Homo sapiens: one gene and its partner. The protein of the gene in region 2 interacts with the protein of the main gene of each other region in a pairwise test. Each region holds a gene or a part of one and is shown on either strand. Other genes may lie near its edges. The genes, in order: LGALS4 and RRAS2.

Evidence for each region.
Region 1: the proteins of RRAS2 (region 2) and LGALS4 interact in a two-hybrid assay, tested with the Homo sapiens proteins (one large-scale study listed by BioGRID and IntAct).

Annotation. Positions count from the first base shown.
Region 1 is NC_000019.10:38,802,636-38,806,450, forward strand, and holds part of LGALS4 (galectin-4), read right to left. Parts: intron 1,261-3,815; coding exon 1,234-1,260; intron 1,146-1,233; coding exon 1,107-1,145; intron 917-1,106; coding exon 887-916; intron 1-886. UniProt on the Homo sapiens protein: Galectin that binds lactose and a related range of sugars. May be involved in the assembly of adherens junctions.
Region 2 is NC_000011.10:14,352,521-14,356,335, forward strand, and holds part of RRAS2 (ras-related protein R-Ras2), read right to left. Parts: intron 1-3,815. UniProt on the Homo sapiens protein: GTP-binding protein with GTPase activity, involved in the regulation of MAPK signaling pathway and thereby controlling multiple cellular processes. Regulates craniofacial development.

The DNA of each region.
Region 1 (3,815 bases), on a different chromosome or scaffold from region 2:
AGGCGTGAGCCACCACGCCCAGCCTTGCAGGAACAAAGGAACAAATTTTGTTTTTTTTTTTAGGCAGAGTCTCCCTCTGACGCCCAGGCTGGAGTGTAGTGGCATAATCTCAGCTCACTGCAACCTCTGCCTCCTAGGTTCAAGCAATTCTGCTGCCTCAGCCTTCCTAGTAGCTGGGATTACAGGTGTGCGCCACCACACCTGGCTAACTTTTGTCATTTTAGTAGAGACGGGGATTCATCATGTTGACCAGGCTGATCTGGAACTCTTGACCTCAAGTGATCCACCTGCCTTGGCCTCCCAAAGGGCTGGGATTATAGGCATGAGCCACCGTGTCTGGCCAAGAATAAATTTTCTTTTTCTTTTCTTTTTCTTTTTTTTTTTTTTTTTTTTTTTTTGAGATGGAGTCTCGTTCTGTCACCAGGTTGGAGTACTGTGGCACGATCCCGGCTCACTGCAACCTCCGACTCCCTGGTTCAAGCGATTCTCCTGCCTCAGCTTCCTGAGTAGCTGGGATTACAGGCGCGCGCCACCATGCCCAGCTAATTTTTGTATTTTTAGTAGAGACAGAGTTTCACTATGCTGGCCAGGATGGTCTCGATCGATCTCCTGACCTCGTGATCTGTCCGCCTTGGCATCCCAAAGTGCTGGGATTACAGGCGTGAGCCACCATGTCCAGCCCAAGAACAAATTTTCTGAGAGGTCCCACTCCTCCTGGAAAACATCCCCAATTCCTTCTGCTCCCTAAACCTGACCACGAACTCTATCTACCCTTCCCCTACCTCCCACCCCAAAACCCTCAGCCCACTCCCTTTCTGGCTGTCTCAGATTCCCTGGAGATCCGTGCCCCCTCCCCACCATCCATCTCTGTTTCCCCAAGCCATACCGGGTTGAAGGTTGGGGGTCCTTCCATGGTCTGTGAAGTGAGGAAGAAGCGATATTATTCTCCAAGAGTCGACAGATATCTATGACACACCCATTAGACTCCGGCGTTTCTCTAGGTGCTGGGTTAGTACACCTTGGGCTGCAACCCCTCTTAGCTCCCCCTACCCCAATTCTCACCATTCCCACTCCTCACCCGGGGCCCTCCCAGCCCTCCCACTCACGGGCAGGCTGTTCAGCTGTTGATGGCAATGTCCGGGACCCTGAACGATGGACAGAAGGCAGGAAGGGTGAGAGGGGCTGAGGGACCCCACTAGGGAGGAAGACCCTCACCTATCAGCAAGTACTTACAGGGTAAGGTGGCATCATCGGGGGTCCCTGTGGGCACAGAAAGAGAAAGCGGTTATGAGAGGGTCCCCAGATTTGCGACTGAAAGATGTCGAGAGTGCCTGCCCTGGGGTGGCCCACCACCACCACCACTATGCCAGAGAACTCTGGCATCAAAGGGTGGCACCCCGATCACAGATTCACGGAGAGGGGCACCCCATGTTCTGGGATCGCTGATGCCCAGTGAGTCACCCCAAAGCTTTAGGACAATGCTTGGTCCATTTTGTTCTCTGTGCCCTTCCCCTTGCTGTCTTCCTGCTGTCCCGGGGCCCTCACTCGCTGATCTTGATCTCAGTTTCTGCCTCTGTCCCTGTGTCTCTGCCTCTCTCTCTGTCTTGGCCACACCTCAGCGCAGGGGCTTCCTTCTGCCAAACACTTTTATTTATTTATTTGAGATGGAATTTCGCTCTTGTTGCCCAGGGTGCCGTGCAGTGGCACGATCTCTGCTCACCTCAACCTCTGCCTCCTGGGTTCAAGTGATTCTCCTGCCTCAGCCTCCGGTGTAGCTGGGATTACAAGCATGCGCCACCACGCCCAGCTAATTTTGTATTTTTAATAGAGATGGGGTTTCTCCATGTTGGTCAGGCTGGTCTCAAACTCCCGACCTCAGGTGATCCGCTCGCCTCACCCTCCCAAGTCTAACACCTTTAACTTTTACTCTCTCTCTTTCTCTCTGTTACCTTCTCTTTTCTCCTCCTTGTAATTAACTCCATTCTGCCTTGACTTCTATTCTCAGCCAGCTATTCTGAAGGCCTTTTAAAAGTAGCTTTATATAGCCGGGCGTGGTGGCAGGTGCCTGTAATCACAGCTACTTGGGAGGCTGAGGAAGAATTCCTTAAACCTGGGAGGCAGAGGGTGCAGTGAGCTGAGATCATGCCACTGCACTCCAACCTGGGCCACAGAGCAAGACTCCATCTAAAAAAAAAACAAAAAACAAAAAACAAACAAACAAATAAACGTAGCTTTATAAGCCGGGGGCTGTGGCTCACGCCTGTAATCTCAGGACTTTGGGAGGCTGAGGTGGGTGGATCACCTGAGGTCAGGAGTTCAAGACCAGCCTGGACAACATAGGAAAATTCCTCCCCTCTGTCTTTACAAAAAATTTAAAAACTAGCTGGGGCTGGTGGTGCGTGCCTGTAGTCCCAGCTACTCAGGAGACTGAGGTGGGAGGATCACTTGAACCCAGGAAGTCAAGAATACAGTAGGCTGTGATTGCACCACCACACTCCAGCCTGGGTGACAGAGCCAGACCCTGCCTCAAAAATAATAATAATAATAATAATAATAATAATAATAATAATAATATTGATAAACTCAATTTAATTGTATGTTATTTATTTTTAATGATTGTGTTAAGCAACCTCTAGGGAATTCATTCACTATCGTGTGTTCTTTGCCTTTCCTTATCCTCACTTTCTGACTCACCTTACACACTTCCTCCTACTCCAGGAAGCACTTCCTTCCTGACCCATGACTAGTCAAGCCCTTCCTGTAGGCTCCCAAACCTCCTGTATACTCCATATCCCAGCCCCTGCCCCTCTGCCTGTGCCCTCCCTATCACAGACCTGACCATTTCTGGGCTGTCACTCTCTGATGCCATGTCTGTGAGCCCAGTGAGGTCAGGGCCCAGAGATATCTCAGTCATTCCTGTCTCCAGCCCTGGGCCTGACCCCTCTGCCTGCCTCCACCCACCCTCCTGTCCTGGCCCTGATCCCTCTGTCTGGGCCCAAACCCAACTGCAACCCTTCAGCCAGGGCCTCCCCATCCCGGCCTTTATCCCTTGCAGTGATGGGTCTGTCTTCCCAGTGGGATCCCTTGATCATCACTGGGCTCTTGGCATAACTCAGCAGAGGGAGATGCTTGGGAAATAAATGAATGTGGAATGCGCTGGGCACCATGGCTCACACCTGTAATCCCAGCACTCTGGGAGACTGTAGCCAGCAGATCACTTGAGGCCAGGAGTTCCAGACCAGCCTGGCCAACATGGTGAAACCCCGTCTCTACTAAAAATACAAAAATTAGCCAGATGTGATGGTGGGTGCCTGTAATCCCAGCTACTTGGGAGGCTGAGGCAGGAGAATTGCTTAAAACTGGGAGGCAGAGGTTGCAGTGAGCCAGAATCACACCACTGTACTCCAGCCTGGGAGACAGAGCAAGACTCCATCTCAAAAAGAAAAAATAGACCAACTGCGGTGGCTCACGCCTGTAATCCCAGCACTTTGGGAAGTCGAGGTGGGTGGATCATGAGGTAAGGAGATCGAGACCATCTTGGCTAACACAGTGAAACCCTGTCTCTACTAAAAATACAAAAAAATTAGCCGGGCGTGGTGGCAGGCTCCTGTAGTCCCAGCTATTTGGGAGGCTGAGGCAGGAGAATGGCGTGAACCTGGGAGGCGGAGCTTGCAGTGAGCCAAGATCGCGCCACTGCACTCCAACCTGGGCGACAGAGTGAGACTCCGTCTCAAAAAAAAAAGAAAAAAAGAAAAAAAGAAAAAAAATGAATGTGGAACTGAATTTAGAAAGAAAGGACGCAAGAAGGGATGGGA
Region 2 (3,815 bases):
CAAGATCAAGGCCTTTCAACAAAATTCATGACTATTAACTCCATACTGTCTACACGCAAAGTGAAAATCCTTTACTCATTATCACTTTTCATTAAGGAAGGCACGGTGGAATTAATATCCTAAAGACCATTTTCCCCAACCAGAAAAAAAGGCGTGTCAAGTGGCATCACAAAATCTGTTTCAATTTTAAAGACCAACTTTAATTTGAAAAAGAAACTTTTAAAATATATATATATAGAGAGAGAGAGAGAGAGAGAGAGGGAGAGAGAGAGAGAGAGACATTTTTTTTTTTTGAGATATAGTCTTGCTGTGTTGCCCAGGCTGGAGTGCAGTGGCATGATCTCCGCCCACTACAACCCTCCGACTCCCAGGTTCAAGCAGTTCTCCTGCCTCAGCTCCTGAGTAGTAGCTGGGATTGCAGGCGCCCGCCACCACACCCAGCTAATTTTTGTATTTTTAGTAGAGACAGGGTTTCACCATGTTGGCCACGCTGGTCTCAAACTCCTGACTTCAAGTGATCCGCCCGCCTCAGCCTCTCAAAGTGCTGGGATTACAGGCATGAGCCACCGTGCCCAGCTAAAATTTTTTTTAATAGCTTTAAGAAAGTCTCTTCCCACTCTACTCCCCCAATTTAAAGTTATCAATTTATTTTCCTAACTGAATGGAGCAGACTATTTTTATTCAAAGCTTAGGAAAGACCATGATATTTCAGCAATCAGATGAATTAAAATCCCATCCCGGTAAGCAGTAGCCTGTTATCTACCAAGGGAAAGCAGTATTCTTGACCTACTCAACAAAAGTGCTCCCACTCGGCCAGGCATGGTGCAGGCCCAGGCGGGTGGATCACCTGAGGTCAGGAGTTCATGACCACCCTGGCCAACATGGTGAAACTCCACCTCTACTAAAAATACAAAATTAGCTGAGTGTTGTGGCACATGCCTGTCTATAATCCCAGCTACTTGGGAGGCTGAGGCTGGAGAATCGCTTGAACCTAGGATGTGGAGGCTGCAGATAGCCAAGATCACGCCATTGCACCACTGCACTCTAGCCTGAACAAGAGCGAAACTTCGTCTCAAAAAAAAAAAAAAAGTGTCCCCACTCAATTCCTACAACTTCCTTATCCCAAAACAGGGGTACGCATGCACACAAACACACACACACAGAGACAGACACAAAGAGAAAGAGAATGAACAAAACAAGAATAAGACGTAAGTTAAGAAACTGCAGGTTAAAATTTCCTTCTTCTCCAAAGGCAGTCATCCTCTATAAGAAAATGTTCTTCCTTGGGTGTACAGAAATTTTATCTAGGAATTGCCTGCAGGACCATTTCAACTGTTCCCCAAACAAGAAAACCTTTAGTATGGTACCACTTTGGGGGCAGGTGTCTTATTTCTCAATGCTAACAATTCATTTGTACATTAATGTTAAAAAAGTTTAAACACTAAAAATGTCTAGTTTCAAAATAATAGATAAAAGTTAACAGTTTAAGTAGTTTCTAATTGCAGGAAAAATCTTCGAGATGTAGCAATGGAACAGCAAATTGGGAATTTAAACTCACAACCTTCACATGTGGATCAATTAACTATTAACACAAATCTCCTGAAATCTCTTCTCGGCTCTCTGCCCCAGGAAAAAGCAATGAAAAAGTACTCAGCAAAAGACAAACTTTTAAAAAGCAATGCTGGGTCCAGACTAACAGGTCATAGGACTGACTGAAATTCAAGACGTGAGAAATCAGCTAACCCCTACCTACCTCAAAATCTGGCAAATTGTTGAATAAAAAGTTAATATGCTAAAAAAAATATATAAACCTCCCTGTAAATTTTTAAAACATATATGGCCTTTTCTCAGAGTTACCAGATAAAGCACTAACCCCAAAATTAAATGCTTACCTCATTATTTCTTAAAATTAAATCCAAACTGACAAAAAGAAATTTCTCCAACTCAAAACGGAATCCACATTCATCACCTGAATACCACACAGAAGTAAGGAGGGGAGTATAGGGTTGAGCCAGGAAGGAGAGGGCAATGAAGACTTAAAGTAATAGACCAGATTATGTGTCAAAGAAAAATGAAAAAATTACAAATTTTGTTTTGGAGGAACACCAAGATACAGAACTAACAGCAGCAAATAAAACCAAGTAACAATTTCTTTTTTTTTTTTTTTTTTTTTGAGACAAGAGTCTCACTCTGCTGCCCAGGCTGGAGTGCAGTGGCGCAACCTTGACTCACTGCGACCTCCACCTCCCAGGTTCAAGTGATTCTCTTGACTCAGCCTCCCGAGTAACTGGGATTACAAGCACGCACCAACACGCCCGGCTAATTTTTGTATTTTTAGTAGAGGTGGGGTTTCACCATGTTGGCCAGACTGGTCTCAAACTCCTGACCTCAAGTGATCCACCCACCTTGGCCTCCCAAAATGCTGGGATTACAGGTGTGAGCCACCACGCCCAGCCAACAATTCTTATTTGCTTACTCTGTAGATGGCACGGTGCTGGATGATTTACCTGCATTATTTTATTTACTCCAAAAACCCTAAGGGTACTATTATTTAATGTTATTCTCCCTTCTCAAATGGTGAAACTTGGGTTTAGAGAACCTAAGAAACTTGACTAAACACACAGCTAGTTAAATGAATAAAAAAAAAAAAACACTCCTAGAATTTCAAAAGTGCAGAAATTTGTTCAACCAAACCCAACATTTCATGGGGAAGAAAGAGAAGCTCAGTCGAGATAAAGGCAGATTAAGAAACTACTCAAAGTCACCTGGGTAGAGAGACATAGACCCCACACACCCAGCAGTCTCTCCTAACCACTCTGTACCATCCTGAAGTCATTTCCTACCTAGAGTTTACTTAACATTTAGGTGTTCTACCTACCAACAGAACTTTACACATTTTTCAAAGAAATATGAGCAACAGAAAGGAGGAGGTAATGTACACACACATATTCATTAAATAACATAATACTTTACATTTTATCATGGCTACTTTATGATTTGTTATATTTATTTTTAAAAAGGAAAAGGTATCTCAATTTAATTATCTTAGTTCCCTAATTTTGCAACTCTTCATATGAACAGAAGGTAACAACTAAATCTAAGTCAAAGAAAGTTAGGGTAAAAGGCATTGTTTTTAAATTCTCCGTTCCCAATTTTATATTTTTTTCTGCTCAAAATCACATAGTAGAAAATATATATACTGAAAATTGTAAAAACAGTCTGGTGTTTCAGGAGTCTTAAAAAAGTAAGTCCAATTTGTGCCATTCTAATCTCCTACCAAGAGAACTGACTTCTGCTTATTAAAATGATTAGTCTGCTGTGTTCTCTCCCTCCAGTTACTACTGCTAAACAATCATGGTGGAATGAATTTTAACATTCCAGGAGTCAGGCAATGAATAGCTACCCTATTAAGTGTAAATATAAAAAAATCGCTTTAGCTCCATAATCTAAAATTAATATAAAAATGTATGCAGCTTTACTACAGACTGTACTAGACACTGTTCTAAGCCCTTGACATGTTAACTCATTTAATTTCACAGCTATATGTGGTCCACCATATTTCCCCAGTTTACAGATGGGGAAAACTAAGGTACAGAGAAGTTAAGTAACCTGCCTAAAATTACACATGCAGCAAGTGGTAGAGCTGAGACTGCATCCAGGTGGTCGGGTTCCTGTCTCTCCAAAAAGGCTCCTTTTTGCAGAGACCAGATCACAGGTCCCAAATCAACTATCAATCCCACTTCCCCACTTGCCACCTCCTCTCTCCAAACTAGCATATGACTCCCACATATGACATTTCCATTCTCCCCACCACC